Linked DNA regions of Homo sapiens: region 2 is linked to region 1. The links come from fine-mapping of genetic effects on gene expression. A gene starts in region 1. The other region holds a variant in brackets. All regions are shown on one strand. Distances are between the middles of the regions. Region 1 holds the start of DIPK1B (divergent protein kinase domain 1B). Region 2 holds the start of LCN10 (lipocalin 10).

Region 1 (15,859 bases):
GAGCAGGAGGAAGAGGCACCACTGAATTTTATTTATTTATATTTATCTATTTATTTATTTTGAGATGAGTTTTGCTCTTGTCACCCAGGCTGGAGTGCAGTGACACGATCTTGACTCACTGCAACCCCTGCTTCCCAGGTTCAAGCGATTCTTCTGCCTCAGCCTCCCGAGTAGCTGGGACTACATGCACCTGCCACCATGCGTGGCTAATTTCTGTATTTTTGGTAGAGAAGGACTTTCACCATGGTGGCCAGGCTGGTCTGGAACTCCTGACCTCAGGTGATCTGCCCGCCTCGGCCTCCCAAAAGGCTGGGATTACAGGCGTGAGCCACCATGCCCTGCCCGGCTAGATTAAAGTTGTTTAAAGCAAAATAAGGAGCAGTCATTGCCTGAGGCCGTCTCTGTACTGGGAGTTCCCACTAACCAACAACAACTTTATTCAGTAGTTTGTTAACAGATAGCCAGGTTTCAACCAATCAATCACGGGCAGCCAACCAATCAGACCACACCCAAATAAGGCAAAGGTCTTGAGTTATTTCTTTTCTTTTTTTTTTCTTTTTCTTTTTTTTTTTTTTTTTTGAGACAGAGTCATGCTCTGTTGCTCAGGCTGGAGTGCAGTGGTGTGATCTCGGCTCACTGCAACCTCCGCCTCCTGGGTTCAAGCGATTCTCCTGCCTCAGCCTCCCGATTAGCTGGGATTACAGGTGCACACCACCATGCCCAGCTAATTTTTGTATTTTTAGTAAAGACGGGGTTTCACCATGTTGGCCAGGCTGGTCTTGAACTCCTGACCTCATGTGATCTGCCTGCCTCGGCCTCCCAAACTGCTGGGATTACAGGTGTGAGCCACGGTGCCTAGCCTGGCCTTGAGTTATTTCCGTACTTCACTTCCACATTCAGCCTGTAAAAGCCTGCTGCTCACACTGCTAAGACAGAGCTCCCAGAGCCTCTTCCACCTTTGAGTGCTGCCTGATTCATGCCTCCTTTAATGCTCAAATCAACTCTGTTACATCTATTTTGTCTAAAGTAGGAAGAATCCTCAAATAAGATTGCCACTGGGACACCAAGCTCGAGTTGGCCAAATGGTGCAAACTCCACAGATCCAGCTGAAAACAACATGGCAATGGCTACTAAGCCATGGGGCTCCCAAAACTGAAGTAGATGGGTCAGCTGTGAGAAGCTCACTGCCTGGTACGGAGCATTGGATGGATTGAAAATCATGGAACAGTCCCTGGCTGAGTCATGAGCCGTTGCCACGCTGCCTGAAAATAAACGCAGAACCTTGTTCATGGACTTCCTCCTTCCACCTCTCACCCCCCTCCACTTACGTTAGGAAGAAAGATGATTAGAGGTTCCCAGGCCGTGGGCACCATCCAAGTGTGCTGGAGAACTTGGAGGAGAAGAAGAACTCAAACTTTATGGCTCTGTCGGATATGAGTAGCCCACATCACTCTCCTGTTTGGACCAGTGGAAGGAAAAGTTCTCTGGATTCCGCTCACCGGATTTGTGCACGGTTTGAAATGGGGAGTGAAGGCTGATGTGATCTTGTGGGTGTGGCATTTTGGGCCAATTCGATGCCCTGTTTTTGATGCTTCTATGTGTGTGTTGCCGCGTAGGAGCTGTGTTTCATCCCCATACTTCCATCCTGTACGTGCCAGAGGGGACTCTCCCTATTGGCAAGCACTGAATGCAGAGAAGGGCCAGTGGGATGTGTGAATCTCTCTGCAACCCGCTTTCAGGGCGGGTACAGAATCCCAGAAGCGGTACAGAATCCCAGAGGGAAAAAGGCGCATCAGAGGTTTGATTGAGGGATTAAGGGCAGTAGGGGGACTAAGAGATGAAATATGGGGCTGGGCGTGGTGGCTCACGCCTGTAATCCCAGCACTTTGAGAGACTGAGGCCGGTAGATCACTTGACACCAGGAGTTAGAGACCAGCCTGGTCAACATGGTGAAACCCCGTCTCTACTAAAAATACAAAAAAATTAGCCAGGTGTGGTGGCGGGCACCTATAGTCCCAGCTATTCGGGAGGCTGAGGCATAAGAATCCCTTGAACCCATCACTTGAACCCGGGAGGTGGAGGTTGCAGTGAGCCGAGATCGTGCCACTGCACTCCAGCCTGGACAACAGGGTGAGAGTCTGCCTCAAAAAAATAAAGGCTGGTCGTGGTGGCTCAAGCTTCTAATCCCAGCACTTTGGGAAGCCGAGGCGGGTGAATCATCTGAGGTCAGGAGTTCAAGACCAGCCTGGCCAACATGGAGAAACCCAGTCTCTACTAAAACTACAAAAATTAGCTGGGCATAGTGGCGGGCCCCTATAGTTCCAGCTACTCGCGAGGCTGAGGCAGGAGAATCATGTGAACCCAGGAGGCAGAGGCTGCAGTGAGCCGAGATCACGCCACTGCACTCCAGCCTGGGTGACAATCACTGGGTGACACTCCGTGTCAAAAAAAAAAAAAAGAGATGAAATATGGCAACACAACATCCCTGAGTGGCCAGTGGAGCAGGTAAGAGCTGCTGGTGGCTGACAGTGGATTACCACCAACAGAAGTCAGCCATTGCTCCCAGAGCCCTAGCTGTCCTACACACTGTGACCATACCGAGCCCATCACGTGGGCTCCGGGTACTTGGTACACTGTCTTGGATCCTGCCAATGCCTTTTTGCCACACCACTGGCAGGGGAGGAGCAAGACCAGCTTGCATTCACATGGCCAGGTCTCCAATACACTTAGGTGTGTTCCCCGTACACGCCCCGCCACTGGCCACCTGTGGGCAGGTTAGGACTTCTGATGTCCACAGGTGCCATGATACAGATGATGTCCTGCAGGTTGGCAGCTCAGAAGCCTTGGGTCTCTAGAACTAGACAACTAGACGGGGGTACTCTCATACCTCCCTGTCCACAGAGGCAGGCAAAACATCAACAGCGTCCAGTGGCTGCCTCACCAGGTGGAGTTTCTTGGGATGAGGTAGGTGGAGGTGGGTCCACAGCACTCACTGCCTCAGCCAGTCAAGGAAAACCTGTTGTCTCTTTGCTCCCTCATCTCACCCAAAAGGACAACCCAGCACTTGATTGGACTGTGTGGGTGTTGGAGACAGGATGTGCTTCATTTGGGCATTCGACTTGGCTTCTTAAATTAGTGAATCCAGGTCGGGCGAGGTGGCTCACGCCGGTAATCCCAGAACTTTGGGAGGCCGAGGGGGGTGGACCACCTGAGGTCAGGAATTTGAGACCAGCCTGGCCAACATAGCAAAACCCTGTCTCTACTAAAAATATAAAAATTAGCCAGACGTGGTGGTGTGTGCCCGTAATCCCAGCTACTCGGGAGGCCGAGGCAGGAGAATCGCTTGCACCTGGGAGGTGGAGGTTGCAGTGAGCCGAGATCACACCACTACATTCCAGCCTGGGCAACAGAGTAAGACTTGGTATCAAAAAAATAATAATATAAATAAAATAAATTAGTGAACCCACAAATCAGCCTGCTTACGTCAGGGCCTGAACCAACAGGCTATTCCAGCTGCCGCCCCGTGAGCCACAGGCCACTCTCTCTCCCGCTGGGGCCTCACAGCCCTGTGATCCCTTTGAACGACAAGTCCCTGTGGCTGACGATCCCGTTATCTGGAAACTCCAGAGAAAGAAAACAGCCTCTGCCCAGATGTGCCCCTTGGGGTGGTGGATTCACTGACTCTCTGACACGACTACTAGGTTCACCCCTTGTTTTCAAAAAGCAAAATTAGCTTACAACGAGCTCTTGTCCCAGTGAACCACCTGACCACGGAGGCCTTGTGACTGGAGCCTGACAGTCCCATTCGGAGGGTTTTCAACTCAGACACAACCACCACAAGGAAGGAGGGCCCTAGAGCTTCTCTTTGCAAACAGAAGACTCTGTATTCAACAGCAGCGGGCGGGTCCCCGGTGATATGTCAGCTTCTCATCGGAAGTGGCAGCTCTCCCTTTGGGGGAAACTTGACGCGCCGCACTCCACCGTCTGAGGGAAAGCTCGTGGCTCTCCAGGGCCCTCGATCCACCAGGGCCCCCTAAACGGCTGCTCACCTGGTGTGCTCACCGGCTTGCTGTCAATAAATACGTGGGTAAATCTCTGTTCGAGGCTCTCAGCTCTGAAGGCTGTGAGACCCGATTTCCTATTTCACACCTCTATATTTCTCTGTGTGTGTCTTTAATTCCTCTAACGCCGCTCGGATAGGGTCTCCCTGACTGAGCTGGTCTCAGCACGTCTCTACTAAAAATACAAAAAAAGGCCAGGCGTGGTGGCTCACGCCTGTAATCCCAGCACTTTGGGAGGCCGAAGCGGGCGGATCACGAGGTCAGGAGATCGAGACCATCCTGGCTAACACAGTGAAACTCCGTCTCTACTAAAAATACAAAAAATTAGCTGGGCGCCGTGGCAGGCGCCTGTAGTCCCAGCTACTCGGGAGGCTGAGGCAGGAGAAAGGCGTGAACCCAGGAGGCGGAGCTTGCAGTGAGCTGAGATTGCCCCACTGCACTCCAACCTGGGCAACGGAGCGAGACTCTATCTCAAAAAAAAGGTCTGGGTGTGAGTAGGGGATGCCTGGGGAAGAGACGCAGTTATAGCAGTTGGAATGGGACATGCCAGTTTTGCAGCAGGGCAGGGAGAGCAATGGGCCCCCTGCTTGGGGAGGAAACTCCCAGGCCTCAGGACGAATGGGAAGGAAAGACAGGGCAGGAAGGTCCTCCACTTTCAGAATTGTCCCCGGAGCCTGCCCCGAAGGTGTGTGTGATCCTGTGTCTCTGCGTCTGTGTCTGTGCAGTGGACCTTTCGTTTACCTGTCGTTTGCCCTGGCCAGGGTTTGAGCTCAGGGCCTCAGGCCACGAAAGGCCCTAGAAACAGCAAGGCACGGCCCAGTTCCCGCCCCCACACCTGAGATACCAGTCAGCACCTCCCGGGTCCTCTGCCCCATTCATGTTCCAGGCAGGTGGATGTCACCCATTGGTGGCGTAGAAACAAGGGCCCCAAAACGAGAACTAGACCCATTCAAACTGAACTGGAACCCGGCCAGTGCCCATTCCATGAACACTTGATGGGCTAGTGGCCACGGACAGTGTGCAGGTTCTGGGCCAGGCCTGCAGATGCAAAGGAGAACGTGGTCACTGGTCCCTGCCTGGAGGGAGCACCGCGTCCCGCGGGCCCTGCTGGGAAATGCCTTTTTGGAAGATCTCGGGGACAGGGTCACCCAGGGCCGGCTATGCGCTCACCAGGCACTCCTCCCAGGGCGGGCCATCTCCCTCCTGGCAGCCTGGGAGTGGCACTGAGGCTGCGCTCATCCTTCTCATGGCCCACACCTTCCCCAGATCCTGACCCACGGATCACGCTCTCCTGCGCCCCTCCCCCAGGAAGCCCTCCTCGGGAGACCCTCCAGAACTTTCTTGGCCGCGGTCTTGGCCTGGCTCACATTGACGGAAGGTGTGGGCTCCTGCACCCTCCAGCTGAGCTCCCTGCAGGCCGGACCGACCACCACTGCCCTGCACCCACTCCCCCTGGCCCTGGGACAGCCCTCCTGCAGGAGGAGGACAGGCCATGCAGGGAAGCACATGCTCTCCCAGCTGTAAACATGGCAAGGCCTCCCTCCAGGCCGGGAGAAGCCTACGTGTTGGCCTCTTGGTGCTTGTGCTCTGTGTCCCACCCTCTCGTACTGCTCTTCCCTTTCTTGGGCTCCGGGACCCTCGCTGGCAGAGAGACAGTGCTTGGATCGAGGGAGAGAGGAAAGGTCACTTGGGGACATGGCAGTCCCTCTTCCCAGCCTGGGCTACGGCTACCTTGGGGGTCACTGAGACTGGGAGGGTCTGCCTGCTACTTTCTCCCACTGGCCCCTCTCCCCTTCCTCACGTTGCCTCCAGCCCTGTCCATCCAGGTCGCTGGCCTAGGCCACTGCCACACCCCCAGGCCCACCCCTCCTTTCTATACCTGGCATAGAACCCTGACCCCATTGCCCCCTGGCCTTGTCCCTCTCTGTTTAACTCCCTGCCATGCAATTCTGTGGGGAGGGGCTCATCCTTTCAACAGATGATGCCAGAAGGATTGGATGTCCATGTGCAAAAAATGCTAACAAAACCCCCAAGCCCCAAACTGAAAACCCTCTGATCCACACCCTGCACAATACACAAAAGTTAACTGGAATTGGGTCATTGACTTAAATATGAAGCCGAATACTATACAACTTCTAGAAGAAAGCACAGAAAACCTTTGTGACCTTCGGTTAGGCAAAAATTTCTTAGAGATGACACACTCAGAGCACGATCCGGGCTGGTGGCAGTGGCTCACTCACGCCCAGAATCCCAGAGCTTTGGGAAGCCAAGGTGGGAGGATCGCTTGAGCCCAAAAGTTCAAGACCAGCCTGGGCAACATGGCAAAACCCCATCTCTACAAAACATTAAAAAATTAGCCTGGTGTGGCCAGGCACGGTGGCTCATGCCTGTAATGCCAGCACTTTGGGAGGCCAAGCCAGGCGGATCATGAGGTCAGGAGTGATCCTGGCCAACATAGTGAAACCCCGTCTCTACTAAAAATACAAAAATTAGCCGGGCATGGTGGCTTGCACCTATAGTTCCAGCTACTTGGGAGGCTGAGGCAGGAGAATCTCTTGAACCTGGGTGGCGGAGGTTGCAGTGAGCTGAGATCGCGCCACTGAACTCCAGCCTGGGCTACAAGAGTGAAACTCCGTCAAAAAAAAAAAAAAAAAAAAGGAAAAGAAAAGAAAGAAACTGTTAAGAGAATGAAAAGAAAGCCACAGACTGGGAGAAAAATCTTTGCAAATCACATGTGTAATAATGGGCAGATATCCAGAAGATATAAAGAAGTCTCGGACCAGGCATGGTGACTCACGCCTGTAATCCCAGCACTTTAGGAGGCTGAGGCAGGTGGATCACTTGAGGCCAGGAGTTTGAGACCACTCCGGCCTGGGCAACATAGCAAGACTCCCTCTCAAAAAAAAAAAAAAAAAAAAGTCTTGGCTGGGCACCAGGTGACTCATGCCTGTAATCCCAGCACTTTGGGAGGCCAAGGCAGGATGATCCCTTGAGCCCAGGAGTTCGAGACCAGCCTGGGCAAAACACTGAGACCCAGTCTCATTCTAGATATTAAAAATTAAAACCAAAATGTAAATAAGTCTCAAAACTTAATAATAAAGAAACAACGTGATTTTTATTAATGGTCAAAAACTTGAATAGACTTTGGAGAAGATACACAGGTGGTAACTGAACACGCAGAAAGTGTGTTAAACACGCGAACCACAGCCCCAGCGAGACGCCACCACCAGGGAAATGGCTAAAATGTAAAAACCTGCCGATAGCAAGAGCCGCCCGGGATGCGGAGCAGCTGGAAGCGCCGGCGGCCGCGGGGAGGGAGCGAGTCTTGGCAGCTGCTGGCTGCGCCCCACATCCCTCACCGTCCAACTCAGCCCCCCCAGGTGTTTACCGAAGTGCAATGAAAGCTTCTGTTCACACGGAACCTGCCTATGGAGGCGGCAACGGCTCATCCCCGAGCACCCCACGCGGAGGCGAAGGAAGTGTCCTCCCGGCGAGTGGCCAAGGCGCGGGGTCTCAGCCAGGAGGGAAGGGTCGGACCCCGGGGCGGGCTGCAGGCTCGGCCAGCCCAGGGCTCCGCGCGTCTGACCCCATCCTGAGGACCCAGGGGAAGGACCAGCCCTGGCTCTGCGGCCTCGAACCGGGGGCGCGCGTGGGGAGCCCTGAACCCCGCAGCCTGCGTAGCGCACGGGGCCTCTCTCCAGCGTGGGAAGAGCCCCCGAGACGCCCAGGAGCCCGACAGGCGCGCCCCCGGCCCCGGCTCCGCCTCCCGGCCCATCCCGCGCGCCCCCAGCCCCTCCCGCAGCACCGTTGCATGAGGGGCGGGGTCTGCGGGTGGGCGGGGCCTCGGTGCCCGCCCCCTCCTCAGCCGAGCCGGGGGTCGAAGGCGGGCCGCGCGCCAAGCCCCGCCCCCGCGCGCCTCCGCCGCGACCCTCCCCCGCGCGCCCCCGCCGCGCCGCCGTCGGCCGACAGAAAGGCGCGCGCCCTCGCCTTTAACGCGGGCCCGGGGGCGCGCGGCCCGCATGGCGAGGGAGCGGCGGCCGCTGCGGGCCGGGCCGGGCCGGGGCTGAGGCCGAGCGAGCCGCGGGGCCCGCGCAGCCCCGGCCGGAGCCCACCATGCGGCGGCTGCGGCGCCTGGCGCACCTGGTGCTCTTCTGCCCCTTCTCCAAGCGCCTGCAGGTAAGCGCGGTGCGCGCCCGCCGCCCCCGGCCGCCTCTGCCTGGGGAGGCCGAGCTCCAGCCCCGGAGTGGGCCGAGTACGGAGCGGGGCCCCGGGTTCGGACACGAAGGGTTCATGAGCCCGGGGTGGGCAGCGGGGAGGGGGCGAGTGGCTCCGGAAGGACGGGACGCTGGGGGAGGGGCGGTGGCGGCGACAGGAGGGTCCGGGCGCGGGGATGCTGCGGCCTGGAGGCCCTCGCCCCGACCTGCAGGCGGTCCCTGCCCCCCAGGCCCAGAAACCACACCGAAGTCCTTTCTTCTTTTCTCCACTTAAAAAATGAGGTGTGTTATTCTGCGGTAGAAAACTTGGGACGCACAGAAACGCCCTGGCAAGGACATGACCTCCCCGCCCCCTGCCCCTTCATCCCATCAGCCAGCCGTAGCGCGGGGACCCTGCCCTGACCCCGGGATGACCTTGAACCACCGTCCCCTCCAGGGGCCTGGCCGGGTCCGCAGGGGAGGCCCGGGCCGCCTTGGGTTCCAGCTGCCAGGAGCCCTTTCACCTTCTGCTTTGGGGAGATGCAGGCCAGGCCCATCAGGCTCCAATCATCCGGGGCCCGGCCTCGGATGGGATGCCCTCCCAGACCCTCCAGGACCCCAGCCATCTGCCGGAGGCGCCAGTCCTGGTCAGATTTGCCTGTATCTCCCCGGCCCCCGCAGGGTGGTCCTGGGTCAGCAGGAGGAACCCTGCCTGCGTCCTGCCTGAGCTCAGGGCCTGGCTGGCCTCAGCTCCCCTTCTGGGAAGAGCGTATGGAACCTGGCAACCCACAGATTGCAGCGAGACCCTCTGTGCCCACTTGGGGCTTCAGGTTGTGGTGGTCCCGGCTCAGCCTTGGGGCAGGGTGAGAGCTAAGGGGTCTGAGGACCACCCCAGTCGCTGGGAGGTGGGGTGCACAGTGGTCCCCTCCCCCGAGGAAAGGCCTCGACCAGCAGCTGCAGAAGAGATGCTGATGCTTGGAGCTCCGCCCAGGAATGGCAGCAGAGGGGTGTTGGCTGCTCCCAGGGTGGCTGGCTCGGGGCCAGAGCCCTGGTGGGAGCCCAGCCTGCCCCTCTAGTGGCGAGGGCCTCAGTTTCCTGGCCTTGTGAACTGCTTTTCTGGGTTAGTGCTGTGGGGCTCCTGGCCCACGGTCTGAGCCTGCTGGGCTGAGGACCACTGTGCTGTTCCCATCCCCTGGGTGACCTTCCCTATCCTCCAAGTGGCTACACCGGGAGCTGGTCCCCACCTGCCCCTGCAAAGCCCCAGCCCAGGTCCTGGATGGTGGGGCCACCTCCACACTCAAGCTTTGCCCGTCCATCTGTGCCAGGCCCGGGAGCCAGGGTGGGCCAGGGAGCACTGTGGGGGCCTTGCAGAGCAGCTGCTTGGGACCCCAGGATCCACAGCAGGGTCAGGGATGGCAGCTGGGGAAGATCAAGACCTAGGGGAGAGCTGGGCAAGGTGGCTCCTGCCTGTAATGCCAGGCCTTAATGGGAGGGTCACTTGAAGCTGGGAGTTCGAGGCTGCAGTGAGCTGTGACTGGACCACTGCACTCCAGCCTGGGCAACACAGCAAGACCCTGTCTCAAAAGAACAACAACAACGAAAGAGCTGGGGGATGAACCAGAGCTGGCCAGGCGGAAATAGGCCCTGGCCCAAGCCCAGTCGGGGCTCTGGGGAGCAGAACTGGGTAAGTCCCTAGCTTGGTGTCACTGTCCCCAGCTGGGGTCAGCCCTAGGCCCGAGGCCAGCTGCAGCCTCCCTCCTCCTGGCTGTCCTCCGAGGCCCCGCCCATGCTGGGCCTCCCTGCATGGCCCTGCCTTGGGCACGTTCACCCCAGACGGAGCCATCCGACCTTATCCTGCCAGAACAACACCCACCCCCCATTGTTTCTCTGCTTTCCTGTTTTTCATCTTGAGCAAGTCTGCCGGAAACAGATTCAGTGCCCAGGACAAGTGGTCTGAGGGGGCGGAGACCAACCTGGGCCTGGAGGGCTCCCCACACCGGAGCCACGCCCTCTGCTCCAGGACCCCCAGGACCCCACTGCTACTGGAGGTCTGGGCCCTTCCCCAGCTGCTGGGGGTCCTCCCTCTGTAGCCCTGCCTGGGGCGGCCATCCGTGAGTGGATGCCGGGGAAGCAGGAGACCAGGGCCCACCCATCCTGAAAGAACCAGAAAAAACGACCTCAGCTGCCTGGGCTGTGCCTTGTCCTCGTTGAGGAGCTGGTGGCCCCATTTTAGGGAGGAGTCCCCTGCTCACGGCCTAAGCCGGGCTGCAGCCCACGACCTCTGATGGGGGCTCTGGCTTGGGCAGGTGGGGGTGTGGCCAGGCGCTGCCGGGAGGAGGATGTGCCCAGGGCAGCCTCTCCCTGGCCGCAGGTGGACAGGAGGCCACAGGGAGTGCTTGGAGCCAGCAGTGGGGCCTCTCTGAGGGGAAGCTGGCCCCCAAGCCTGGGCCCTTCACCCTTCAGCTGCAGGTCAGGGATGTCTGAACCCCTGTGTAGGGCAAGTCCCCTCTGCTGGCCAGTGCCTGAGAGGCCTGAAATTTGCTAGGGGGCTGGGGAGAGGGAAGGTGGCATGCAGCTGTCCCTGGCTGTCACCCTTGGAAGCCCAGCTTGGAGGCCTGCACCCTAGAGCCGGTGCCTGAGCCTCCTCAGGCCGGTAGGGAAACCAAGGCAGAGGGACTGAGGATGGCAGAGTGACCTGGAGCCCTCCCTAAAAGCCGGCTCCCAGACATCTGGGTCAGAGCTTTAGGCAGGGGCCAGGGGCTGCCTGCTTACTTTTTTTTTTTTTTTGAGACGGAGCCTCACTCTGTCGCCCAGGCTGGAGTGCAATGGCGCCATCTCAGCTCACCACAACCTCTGCCTCCCGGGTTCAAGCGATTCTCCTGCCTCAGTCTCCCAAGTAGCTGGGATTACAGGCATGCGCCACCATGCCTGGCTAATTTTGTATTTTTAGTAGGGATGGCGTTCCTCCCTGTTGGTCAGGCTGGTCTCCAACTCCCGACCTCAGGTGATCTGCCTGCCTCGGCCTCCCAAAGTTCTGGGATTACAGGGGTGAGCCACCACGCCCGACCTTAATTTTTAACTGCGGTAAGATACACATGGCATAAAGTGTATCATCTTAACCCTGTTTAAGGGCACAGTTTAGTGGTCACCTCCCTCTGTCCGCAGAGCTCTCCGCCTTCCCAAACTGAAGCTCTGTCTGCATCAAACGCACACTCCCAGTCCCTTCCCAGCCCGCGGCTCCCTCTACTCTCCTTCCTGTCTCTATGGTTTTGGCGACTCTGGGGACCTCGTGTAAGTGGGTCCTGCAGGATTTGTGCTTTGGTGACGGGCTCGTTTCACTGAGCCTCTTGTCCTGGGGCTCCTCCCTTCTGGGTGGACATCAGATCTCCTTCCTTCTCAGGACACAGTCACTCCGCAGTGTGGATAGGATAGACGCAGCTGCTCTTCCATCCCCCGGCTGTGAACTTAAGGACTGCCCACCCCTGGGCTGTTGTGAACATCGGTGTCTGAGTCTGTGTCTTTTTTTTTTTTTTTTTTTTTTGAGACAGGGTCTCGCTTTCTCACCCAGGCTGGAGTGTAGCGTGGGGTCACAGCTCACTGCAGCTTCAACCTCCCGGGTTCAATCAATCCTCCAGCCTCAGCCTCCCAAGTAGCTGGGACTACAGGCGTGAGTCACCATGTCCAGCTAATTTTTGTATTTTTAGTAGAGATGGGGTTTTGCCATGTTGCCCAGGCTGGTCTCGAACTCCTGAGCTCAAGCAAGCCACCCACCTCAGCCTCCCAAAGAGCTGGGATCACAGGGTGAGCCACCGCACCCAGCTAATTTTTGTATTTTTGTAGAGGCGGGGTTTCCCTATGTTGCCCAGGATGGTCTCAAACTCCTGGGCTCAAGCAATCTGCCCGCCTCAGCCTCCCCGAGTGCTGGGTTTACAGGGTGAGCCACCATGCCCGGCCCGCCTGCGTCTCTTAAAGGCTTCCAGGATGTGGCTGCGTTGGGCTCCTAGGGCCCCGTTCTCCAAACCTGGTTCTCCTTGTGGGTCTGGTCCGGCCGGAACTTCCCACCAATCTGCATTACGGTGGACGGTGGGAAAAATAGGGGCAGTGTCTCTCGCGGTGGGCGCGCTCACCTGGCCTTGTGCGGAGGTGACGATGTTATGAAATGAGATCAGGATAGGAAGGGTTTGTAAAAATATCTTCATTCGGCCAGGCACAGTGGCTCACACCTGTAATCCCAGCACTTTGGGAGGCCAAGGCAGGTAGATCACCTGAGGTCCGGAGTTCAAGACCAGCCTAGTCAACATGGTGAAACCCCGTCTCTACTAAAAATACAAAAATTAGCTGGTCGTGGTGGTGCATGCCTGTAGTCCCAGTTACTCGGGAGGCTGACGCAGGAGAATCACTTGAACCCGGGAGGCAGAGGTTGCAGTGAGCCGAGATCGCGCCACTGCACTCCAGCCTGGGCTACAGAGTAAGACTCCCTCTCAAAAAAAAAAAAAAAATTTCATTCAGCAGAGGAAAGAATCGGCCACCCTGTAGTCCCCTGGTTTTGACATTTATTTGTACCTGCCCATAACACTGAAAAGTCTGGGCAGCGCCTGCCCCCACCTCCGGCCCCTGCAGCCCCTGGTATGTGACCCTGGAGAGGCAGAGCCAGGAGTGGGTGTCGCTGAGCTGGGGGTGATTCTAGAAGACGGGGGTGCCAGGGGGCCAAGGGGATGGCAGGGGAAGGCTGGGGTGGATCCGGAGGCCCTTCCTGTGGGAAGTGGGGTTGAGAGCACCCTGAGCCTGGGTGCCCCGAGGGCACCTCCTCACGCAGCCCCTTCCCCCACAGGGCCGGCTCCCAGGCCTCAGGGTCCGCTGCATCTTCCTGGCCTGGCTGGGCGTCTTTGCAGGCAGCTGGCTGGTGTACGTGCACTACTCGTCCTACTCGGAGCGCTGTCGCGGCCATGTCTGCCAGGTGGTCATTGTAAGTGTTGCTTGTGCGGGCTGGGGACTGGGCCGTGCCCCCTGCTGCCCAAGATGCTGGGGCACCAGGCCCTGGAGACACCTTCCTCCCCAGACCCAGGGCCCACGAGGCACGTGGGTTTCTAGGTGGAATCTGCAAAGCTGCCTCAGGCTGGGTGTGGAGGACAGGGGTCCAGGGGAGGACGGGGGAGACGTGCGGGGCTGCCTCAGGCTGGGTGTGGAGGATGGGGGTCCAGAGGAGGATGGGGGAGACGTGGGGGCTGGGGGCAGAAGGCAGGGCAGACTCCAGAAATCTTTGGGAGGGAGGATGTTTAGCAGGAAGCCTGGGGTGGGCAGCTGGCCTCACTGCTCCGGGATAGAGACCCCCGTGTGGTGTCCTCACTGGATGGGATAGAGACCCCCGTGTGCTGGCCTCACTGGTCCAGGATAGCGACCCCCGTGTGCTGGCCTCACTGGCCTGGGATAGAGACCACCGTGTGCTGGCCTCACTGGTCCAGGATAGAGACCACTGTGTGCTGGCCTCACTGGTCCGGGATAGAGACCCCCGTGTGCTGGCCTCACTGGTCCGGGATAGAGACCCCCGTGTGCTGGCCTTAGTGGCCTCGCTAGCCCCCCTGGGACCAGGGGTCCCCTGAGGCAGGTGGCAGGGCAAGGTCCTCCACAGCCTCCACCTCAGGGAGATAGGGCTAAGTCCCCTGGCGTATGTGAGCATGTGTGTGTCTGGGAGCAAACGTGTCCACATGAGTGCACACCAAGGTGACCCCCTGCCCCTCTCCACACCCTGTGACTAGCTCAGAGGGGAGGTCATCCCAGCTCTGTCTTCCTGGCAAACCCTAGACTCGCCCAGAACTGGGCAGGTCCCCCACTGAATTTTGACCCCAGGCTGCCCGATGACCAGGGTTCCGATGCCTCCACTCCCCTTGGGGTCAGGCCTGGGCATAGAAGGATCTGGCCTGTAGCAGCGGCCACTGTGGGTTGTCATAGGGTGATTGGGTGCAGGGAGACCCCAGGTTCGGTGTCTCCTCCGTCAGATGGGGAGAGCACCTCTCCTGGCAACTGGGTGGTGGATGAAGCTAGCCGGGTGGGCCTGGGCAGGCCTGTGTCCCACAGAGCCATGTCTGACGGGGGCCACATGTGGAAAGGCCCAGATGTGGCAGTGGAGGACTGGGGTGTGGGGTCCGGAGCTAGGAGAGCTTCTGTGCCCAGGACTTGTTTGGAGCCCATGCCAGCCCAGGGGAGGCCTCCGGGCCCCTGGACCAGGCCTTGCTCACCCTTGAAGTCCAGGGGGCCTCTGAGCCCAGCAGGGCCGGAGGGTGGCACATGGGGCTCGTCCTGGGGCCATGGGTGGGGAAGGCTGTGCCCCGATCAGATGCACCCCTGGAGCTCCTAGAAGGACCAAGGAGGTGGAGGGGCCGGACCTCCGGGCCGGGATGTTGTGGGTGGGGGCGGGTGGGGGTGAGCAGAGGATTCACGTGGCCAGGCAGGTTCTGAGCACCTACTGGGTGCCGGGCCGCAAAGCAGGAGGAGGTGCCCCCACAAACAAGAGGAAGCTGCAGCGTCGGTTTCCCAGGGTGCCCTGGCCCTTTGCCCAGTGGGGGTTTCCCTGGCTGCTCAGAGCCTTCCCAGAGGTCAGGCCAAGCCCAGCTCTCCCGAAGCCACCCCAGGGGCCATGGAGACGTCCCCTCCTTCCCAGAGGAGGTTCCCTGCCCGGCCTCGTGGGGGCATTGGACGCCTCAGAGAGGCGCAGAGGCTGGCCCAGCGCACACAACGAGGCAGCAGCAGTGCAGGGCCAGTCCCAGCTTCCACCAGGGCCCTCGCGAGGCCAAGAACTAGACCGTGAGTCCCCACTGAGCCCTGCTGCAGGCGGGGAACAGGCTGGGCGGTGAGGGGACCGATGTGCGGCAAGGGCCCTGAGGAGGCCAAGCACACGCCCGCCTCAGCCTCTGAGGAAGCCTCTCCACACTCTGCTAGGTGCTGGTAGGTGCCCAGGACCATGGAGGCAGCTCCATCTCCCCACCCCTGGGGGACCCTGGAGCCCCAGCCCCAGCCCCAGCCTGGCAGACAGCAGTGTGGCCCACAGGCTCCTTCCCCAGCACCACTGTGTGCCAGGAGCAGGGCAGCCTCCTGCGGTCCTGGGGCTCCGGGCACAGGGGCTGGTCTGGGGCTCCGGGCGCAGGGGCTGTGTGATCTGGGGCTCCGAGTGCAGGGGGCTGTGTGGTCTGGGGCTCCGGGTGCAGGGGGCTGTGTGGGCTGGGGCTCCGGGTGCAGGGGCTGGTCTGGGGCTCTGGGTTCAGGGGGCTGTGTGGTCTGGGGTTCCAGGCGCAGGGGCTGGTCTGGGGCTCCGGGTGCAGGGGGCTGGTCTGGGGTTCCGGGTGCAGGGGCTGTGTGGTCTGGGGCTCTGGGTGCAGGGAGCTGGCTGGTCTGGGGACGGGAGTGGACTCCGGTGGCAAAGGGCCTGCCTGCAAGGTGGAGGGTTGGACAAGTGTGCAGTTTTCCTTCATTTTCCTTTTCTGTCTTGACGAAGAGCCGGCGTTTTCTTGCTGCCGGGACAGACGCTGCCTTCATGACTCACGTGGCGGGGTCCTCGGCCTCCAGTTGGCCCATCTCACTTCTGTCCCCATCCTTGGTGTGTGGGGGGCG
Region 2 (8,212 bases), 27 kb after region 1:
CAGAAAGATGACTCAGCCATGTGCAGTGAAAAAGCCGTCAGCCCCAATTGGTGACTCTGGGTCTTTAAACACCTTCCATGGGGCCACACAGGTGCCCAGCCCCATGCCAGAACCTTTGGGAATTGCAGACTCTGACCAAAACTGTGGGGCTCTCGCAAGAGCCTCAGGCCACTCCCTGCTGCCTTTCGTCCCCAACCTGGACCTCAGAGGCCCAGTGAAGTGACCATTGTAACTCCAGGACAGAACTGCACAGGGCCCTCGGGAGGTGGGGGGTGTCCAGGAGCACTGGCCAGCCCCATCGGCCCGGCCGCAGCTGTCTCTGCTGCCAGCCAGCAAGGATGTCCACAGGCTGTGGGCTCACCGGGGGTTCATCTGTAGCAGACACACCTATGGGCTCCCCCAGATTTTTTTTTTGGTTTTTTTGAGACAGAGTCTCTCTCTGTCACCCAGGCTGGAGTGCAGTGGCACGATCTCTGCTCACTATAGCCTCCACCTCCTGGGTTCAAGCGATTCTCCTGCCTCAGCGTCCCAAGTAGCTGAGATTACAGGCATGCACCACCACGCCCGGCTAACTTTTGTATTTTTAGTAGAGAGGAGGTTTCACCATGTTGGCCAGGCTGGTCTCAAACTCCTGACCTCAGGTGATACACCTACCTGTGCCTCCCTTCCAAAGTGCTGGGATTACAGGCGTGAGCCACTGTGCCCGGCCTCCCCTGGATTCTTGTTCTCATCTTCCTCCAGAGAGAACCCTGGCCATGCCACTGCCTCTGAAATGGGGGTCAGGGAAATGGTGTTGTCTGGGAAGCAGCTGAGGCTATGGTGTCTCTGAGGCTCACTCCAGGGCCACAGAGTGGGCCTAACCCACAGGGCTGTGTGTGATGAAAGGGCATCATAGACCGCACGGGCCCTGTGGAGGGTGGAGGGTGGTACCCACAGAACCGTCAGCAATTCTGACCCACCAGGTGGCACGCTGCGGAGGGAGGTGCACTGGCACGGGTGGTGTGTACGCGTCTAACCCCTCCTGCTGCCCCTCCCTCCCTGCCCGTGGGACCCCAAGTGCTCCCCTCTCCCCATTCTCCCAGCTCCTTCCCTTCTTCCTTCTTCTCCTCCCCACTGACAGGATTGAGTTGTGGAAATGGCTGCTTCCCTGGGCCCAGGGAAGGGGGGCGCAGAGCCCGAGCCCCCGGGACAGAGCCAGGCCCAGGGAAGGGGGGCGCAGAGCCCGAGCCCCCGGGACAGAGCCATTGCCCTCACCCTGGTGAATGGGTGGTTCAGAGGCCCACACTCGGGGTTCTCAAGGCCGGACAGCAGTTTGGGGCTCCTGCTCAGCTCGTGTCCTGCCTCTGCAGCCAGCCTGCGTGAGGGAGCAGAGACATCGAAGGGGGGCCGGGGAGCCTGGGCCCACCTCTCCATGACTGTGCCTTGGCCTGGGATTCTGGAAGAAGTAGTCACGTCTCTGCCACTCTTTAATGTTTTTTGAGACAGGGTCTCCTCTCTCACCCAGGCTGGAGTGCAGTGGTGCAATCGGCTCACAGCAGCCTTGACCCCCTGGGCTCCAGCCATCCTCCCACCTCAGCCTCCTGAGGAGCGGTCACCACGAGTGCGTGCACCACACCTGCTACATCTAAATCCTGGAGTTTCTTTCTTTCTTTCTTTCTTTTTTTTTTTTTTTGAGACAGAGCCTTGCTCTGTTACCCAGGCTGGAGTGCAGTGGCATGATTTCAGCTCACTGCAACCTCGACCTCCCAGGTTCAAGTGATTCTCCTGCCTCAGCCTCCCGAGTAGCTGGGATTACAGGTACCTGCCACTATGCCTGGCTAATTTTTGTATTTTAAGTAGAGACGGGGTTTCACCATGTTGGCCAGGCTGGTCTCAAACTTGTGACCTCGTGATCCGCCCGCCTGGGCCTCCCAAAGTGCTGGGATTACAGGCGTGAGCCACCACACCCAGCCTGTATTTTTTTTTTTTTTTTGAGCTAGAGTCTTGCTCTGTCGCCCAGTGGAGTGCAGTGGAGCGATCTCGGTTCACTGCAGCCTCTGCTGCCTGGGTTCAAGCGATTCTCCTGCCTTAGCCTCCCGAGTAGCTGGGATTACAGGCACCCGCCACCGCACCTGGCTGATTTTTGTTTTTTTTAGTAGAGACAGGGTTTCAGCATCTTGGCCAGGCTGGTCTTGAAATCCTGACCTCGTGATACACCCATCTCGGCCTCCCAAAGTGCTGGGATTACAGGTGTGAGCCACCATGCCCGGCTGTATTTTTTTTTTTTTTTTTTTGAGATGGAATTTCACTCTCGTTGCCCAGGCTGGAGTGCAATGGCATGATCTCGGCTCACCACAACCTCCGCCTCCCGGGTTCAAGCTACTCTCCTGCCTCAGCCTCCCGAGTAGCTGGGATTATAGGCATGTGCCACCACGCATGGCTAACTTTGTATTTTTAGTAGAGACAGTTTTTCTCTATGTTGGTCAGGCTGGTCTCGAACCCCTGAACTCAAGTGATTCACCTGGTTCAGCCCCCCAAAGTGCTGGGATTACAGGCGCCCAGCCTTTTATATATATGTCATAATATATACTATATATATATAATATTATATTATATTATATTATATATTATATATATATCTCATATATATATATATAATTTTTTTTGAGACAGAGTCTCGCTCTGTCACCAGGCTGGAGTGCAATGGTGTGATCTCAGCTCACTGCAACCTCCGCCTCCTGGGTTCAAGCAATTCTTCTGCCTCAGCCTCCTGAATAGTTGGGATTACAGGCGTGTACCACCACGTTTGGCTAATTTTTTGTATTTTTTAACAGAGACGGGGTTTCACCATATTGGCCAGGATGGTCTCGATTGCTTGACCTCATGATCCGCCCGTTTCAGCCTCCCAAAGTGCTGGGATTACAGGTGTGAGCCACCATGCCTGGCATATATATATGTTTTTTGAGACAGTCTCACTCTGTTGCCCGGGCTGGAGTGCAGTGGCACGATCCTGACTCACTCAACCTCCCAGGCTCAAGCAATCCTCCCACCTTAGCCTCCTGAGTAGCTAGGACTACAGGCGCCCACCACCACGCTCAGCTAATTTTTGTATTTTTTGTAGAGATGAAGTCTCAACATGTTGCCCGGGCTCCAAACTACTTTTTTGCACACAGGAGAGCTTTATTTCTCATAAGAGATTGCAGCCAGCAGGGCAGCCCTTCTGACAGGCTAGGAAGCGTAGCCTCAGGCCAGAAGCCTGGAACAGACACTTGGAGGGGAGGGACAGAGGGGACAGGAATTTACGCTGAAGGAGATGGCCAAATAGAGATGTTCAATAAGCTTCAGGAGGAGTCATGAATATTCATGAAAGGAGAAGCGTGTACTGGTCCAGCTGAGCAAATTCTCCATGGACTGCCCAGAACCAATCTCTGATCTCTTCTCGGGCCAGAAGGAGGGGCTGACCCCTTACCCCGTCATGGCTGAGGACTCGGGTTCAGGGTTTCTTTGGGATCCCCTTGGCCAGAAGAAGGTCCATTCATTCAGTTGGGGGGTTCATCTCAGACAACCTCCCGTCATCACCCCTTGAGTGAGACCTAAGCCTTCACCGCAGCCTTCGAGGTGCCGTGGTCTGGTGGGCCCCCTCCTGCTCCTCTGTGGCTCTCCCCGCCGCCATTCTGATACTGGCGTCCCCAATCTCCTTGAGAAACCATTTTCTCTACTCTGATGTCTTTTCAGAAGTCACATCCTGTTCTGGGGATGCACCCCTGCTCCTCCAGCCCCACCCAAACTGACTTAACACCCACCACCCTTCCCAGGTCAGCCCAAATGCCACTTCCCCCAGGAAGCTCTCCCTGATGCTGCCCTGGATGGAATGAGTCAGACCTGCTGTTGTGGGGCCCTGGCCGCGCCTAGATACACTTCTAGGGTCTATACTCGAGTATCCAGGTGATCTAGGGTCTATACTCGAGTATCCAGGTGACCACACTGCTGAAGTTGGCTTCTCCTGATCAGGCATCAACTCTGGGACTGCGTTTGCCGATTCTGTTCCCTAACGCAGCCGCAGGGGCCAGCACGCTGCCTGGCACGTCATGGGGGCTCCTCCATGTTGGGTGGATATGCGAACGGCTTCCTGAGAAAGTGCAGGATGTAAAGGAACGCGGAGGGTGGCGGCGGCGTGGAGGGCAGAGGCAAGGCACACGGCGAGGACTGCGTTGGGCCGGCCTGTGGTCTGTTTCACAGCAGACAGGGAATAGCAGCAGCCTGCAGTGTGCTCCAGAAGACAGTGGGGAAGGGGCCTGGCTGACATCTCGCCACCCGGTCAGCCTGTATCCTCCTTCCCCCATCTTTCTGTGATCATAAAGGATCCCTTGAGCCACTTGATTTTCACACTGTCAATGACCTAGAGTCACCAAACACCTCTCAACAAGCCGTGGTCTCCACTTGACATCTGGAACAACGCTCCTCGGGTCTGGGAGGACCACGCGTCGAAAGGGAAGAGCAGAGGACGCTGGCTCTCATGGCAGGATGGTGTGTGTACGGGACGCTGTGGGAGAGGAAAACAGCCACATGTGGGCTGGCTGCTTGGAGGAGACACATGAGCCGTGAACACGTCTCCCCCGGCCGCTCCCTGGTTCCATGCGTGCTCGTCTTGGGCACCACGAGAACACAGCCATGCAGCCCCCGATCCTGCAGCCACAGCCACGGCATCGCCTGGTCGGATGCAGCATCTGCTCCGGACGCCTCTCGCTGTCGGTGCCAGGCCTGCCAGGCCAAGCCCCGATTCTCAGGGGCGGCAGGAGGTGGGAGGCACGTTTGGGCGGATCTTTCAAATGGCACCTTTCAAATGGATCCTTTCATCTCTCCTTCCCCCAATGAATCAGCTCCCCAATGGGACGGGCAGGTAGGGCCAGGAGGGCAAAGGGCTGAGGGCACAGCTTACCGTCTTTCGGGAGGATGACGGCGGCCTTGGAGAGCCCCAGAATGTCACAAGCGTCCATGAATTCCTTCAGACTCTGGAAGCTCGAAACATTCTGCCTATCTGAGGTTGAGATCAGGATCACATCAGAGACTCCAGCTCTGGCCATTTTAGGGTCTGCACCCTGACCCCCATCCCTACCCCAGGAGCTGCTGAAATGTCCTCAGAGCTTAGGCGTGAAGCAGGGGTTGGCCAGGGGAGGACAGCGGCCGCTGGGCCCCTCCCCACTTACGAGGCAGCCAGGCT[C/T]GGGAAGCCAGGGTCACCACGCTGTCACCTGGGGAACCCTCTCTGCCTGCAGAGTCCCCTCCAGCCAGCCCCTCAGCTGTGCCCCAGCTTGCTGCACCCTGAGCGTGCCCTGCCTCGACTGAGACCCCAGGACCCCACCTCCCCTCTACCCGTTCCAACCGGGAGGGCCACTCCTTTCCGTGTACCCCAAGTGGTTGGTGTCTAGAATTGGGTTTGTGGCCCTTAACCCACACTGGGTCACTTCCACACCCCTCCATCCCGGGCAGACCCTTACCTGGGACCCCTCCCACGCCTCCTCATCCCCACTGTGTCCCTCACCCAGAACGTTGCACCTGCACCCGCCACCATCCTGGTGGCCTCCGCTCCCCCTGGATGGCCCACCTTTCTCTGCAGCCTCTTCCTGACGTCCCCTATCCTTGCTTCAGCGACCTCCAGGACCTGACTGCTGTGGTCTCGGCTTCCATTGCCCCTGCCCTGACCACCGCCCCAACCCCCACTCTCCCTGCCCGCCTCACCTCCTGCCCGGCCCCCTGTGCCCAGCGCCCCTCTATGCCTCCCTCTGCACCCCCTCCACCATCCTCTGCCATCCGCTGTGCCTGCTCACGGAAGAGCAGCAGGTTCTTGTAGTTTTGGGTTGCACGCCCCAGGCGGAGGTAGACCAAGCCGTAGCTGTAGTCAGTGGACAGCACGTGGAAGGCCTTCACCCCTTTCACTGAAAGAGATGCCCAGAGATGCCCGCTGGTTCCCGGATGGCGTGGCTGTGCCCGCCCACAGCCCTGACCCCTGGTGCCCGAGGCCTCAGAGCCCCCACCCAGGTGCAGGTGTCCAGAGGGACTGAGTGCCCTCCCGGGGCCTCCCCTCCCGGGCCAGGCCGCCCAGCACATGACGTGTGGGCTCTGGGAACACAGCCAGCCTGACGCCTGCCTGCCACGTGCTCTCGGGGACAAGGGGCCTGCTCAAGGCACAGGGGGGTCAGAGGCATATCACGCAGCTCCTCCAGGGCCCAGAGCCCAAGCACACCTCCCTCCTGTCCTTCCCTCGGGCCCGCCGCGTATGCACAGGCGTTCCCAAACACCGGCTTCTTCCCGTCTTTCCTCAGGATCACCTCCTGGGACTGGCACCCCTTCAACCTGGGGCCAAGGCGGGGGCTCAGGCTGCAGACCAGGGAACCCCTCCTCCCGCCTGCCAGCCACCGAGCCCCACCCACACGTCTCGGTCCCGCCCCTGCTCCCGTGGGACCCGGGAAGGTTGGGGCCCCAGGTCCCCAGTTTTTTGCTTCACTATCCAACTCGTGTCAATCTGAGGCTCTGTGGTTTGAGGATTTTCCAATTCGGACTGGGGCCTGTCCCACGGCACGAGAGAAACTCCCAACACCCACCCGTGTGGGGCCCAGGAGCTGCAAGCGGCTTCCTCCCAACACCTACCCATGTGGGGTCCCAAGGTCTGCAGGCAGCTTCCTCCCAACACCCACCCATGTGGGGTCCCAGGGGCTGCAGGTGGCTTCCTCTGAGTTTAGGGGGAGGAAGTGGGGGGACGGTTCTTGTGGAACTTCCAGACAGACAGGCTCCTCCCAGACTCCTTTCCAGCCCCGAGGCAGCTCCCTCCTCCTGGAAGGGGAGACCCTTGCCTGGGGGGCGCTGCCCACTCACCGTCTGAAGGCGAGGAGCACGCGGAGCTGGCCCACTTTGTTCACCTTTACCACGGACGCCCCCAGCTTCCTCTTGTCCCTGGCCGGCAAGAATCCCTGGGCATCAGTGGCAGTGGCCAGAATGTACCAGAACCCTGAAAACTGCGCAGCGGATGTGTGGGCGGGGACAGGAGCTGCCACCGGGGGCTGTCCCCACCCCCGAGGTTCCCAGCTAGAGAACCCAGGAGACAAATGACCCTTCTGTGAGCCGGAGTCCCAGCTCCGCCCAGGTGCCGCCTCGGTCCCGGCCACTCAAGCCCTGGCCACTGGAGCAGGGCTGCAGAGAAGCAGGTGCCCGGCTGGTCAGGGACCCCAGGCAGCAAAGGGCTGGGCTGTGGGCGCCAGCAGGTGGGAGGCCCCCTACCTCAGAGGCCCCGGCTCCTTCCCACATGGCCTCCTGGGGGCTGGGTACTGCTCGGCCACTTCCCTTCCTGCCGGCCCCCGGCCCCCAACTCTGCCTGCTGCCAACCCTAGCGCCCTGGGCACCGCCGTGCCAATGAGTGCTGCTCCCACGGCTCACTCAGCAGGTGCCCGGGCCCTCCCGCTACAGAATATGCCCCGCTTGCTCCACACCCACTCTGCACTCTGGGCGTCTCCCGACCTCCTCGGCCACAGCTCTCTGGGCCCCTCCACCCTGGCCCTCCCTGACCCCCCTGGGCCCCCGAACCCCCTCGAGGCTCCCTGCCTTTGCCCTGCAACTTGCGGGGCCCCTGTGCTGGAGGCTGCAGTGGGAGAGGCCAGGTGGGCAGCGCCCGTGCCTGGAACTGCTGGTAGCCCTGCTCCTGGGCGGCTGCCGGGAGACTGTGCAGGAGCCTGCTCCAGCTCCAGAGCCGGCGCCCGGCTCAGGGACCAGTGGCACATGGCTCACCTTGTTCCAGTTGAGGGCGTGGGACTCCCTGGGGTACCACTCCTGCACCTGGGACCCTGCAGCCAGCACTAGCACCAGCACCAGCACCAGCGCCAGCACCAGCAGCCCCTGCCTCATCTTCACCCTCCTCCCTCAGCCGCCAAGGCCAGTGTTTAAACCTCTCTGGAGCCGCCAGCCTGTGTCGGGAGAGGAGGGAGGGGAGGGAGCGGAGGGAGGCAACAGGTGTGGCCTTGGGCTCTGCTACCCTCTCCCCGCCCAGGGACCACCCCCAGACACTCCAGGGAAGCCGGCACTGCCCCACCTGGTGGTCACTGCTGGCCTGGGCTGCCCTGGCAGACAGAGGCCCCTCTGAGGCCCCAGGACCCTCCTGCCCTCAGTGCCCGGCCTGGGGTCACTGTGTGTGCCCCTGAGACTCATTAAGCCCTGGCCCTCATCCTAGACCTCCCAGGTGACAGGC

Evidence for each region. PIP is the estimated chance that this variant, and not a neighbour inherited with it, causes the effect.
Region 2: its variant is fine-mapped to the expression of DIPK1B in whole blood (TOPMed, PIP above 0.99).

The regions. Positions count from the first base shown.
Region 1 is chr9:136,704,492-136,720,350 of GRCh38, forward strand. It overlaps DIPK1B (divergent protein kinase domain 1B), which reads left to right and starts at 8,081. Exons shown (of 5, transcript NM_152421.4): 1 at 8,081-8,237; 2 at 13,086-13,220. The coding sequence starts at 8,175. It overlaps LOC124900276 (cuticle collagen 2-like), which reads right to left. Exons shown (of 5, transcript XM_047424334.1): 5 at 12,791-15,859. The coding sequence starts at 15,784. The coding sequence ends at 14,849. RefSeq lists enhancers at 8,744-9,668, 9,809-9,938, 14,949-14,998.
Region 2 is chr9:136,735,032-136,743,243 of GRCh38, forward strand. LCN10 (lipocalin 10) reads right to left here and starts at 7,909. Exons shown (of 6, transcript NM_001001712.3): 1 at 7,756-7,909; 2 at 6,850-6,989; 3 at 6,221-6,330; 4 at 5,805-5,912; 5 at 4,919-5,017; 6 at 3,139-4,522. The coding sequence starts at 7,872. The coding sequence ends at 4,494. RefSeq lists an enhancer at 230-729 and a silencer at 7,314-7,413. The variant C/T (reference allele first, on the strand shown) is at 5,201.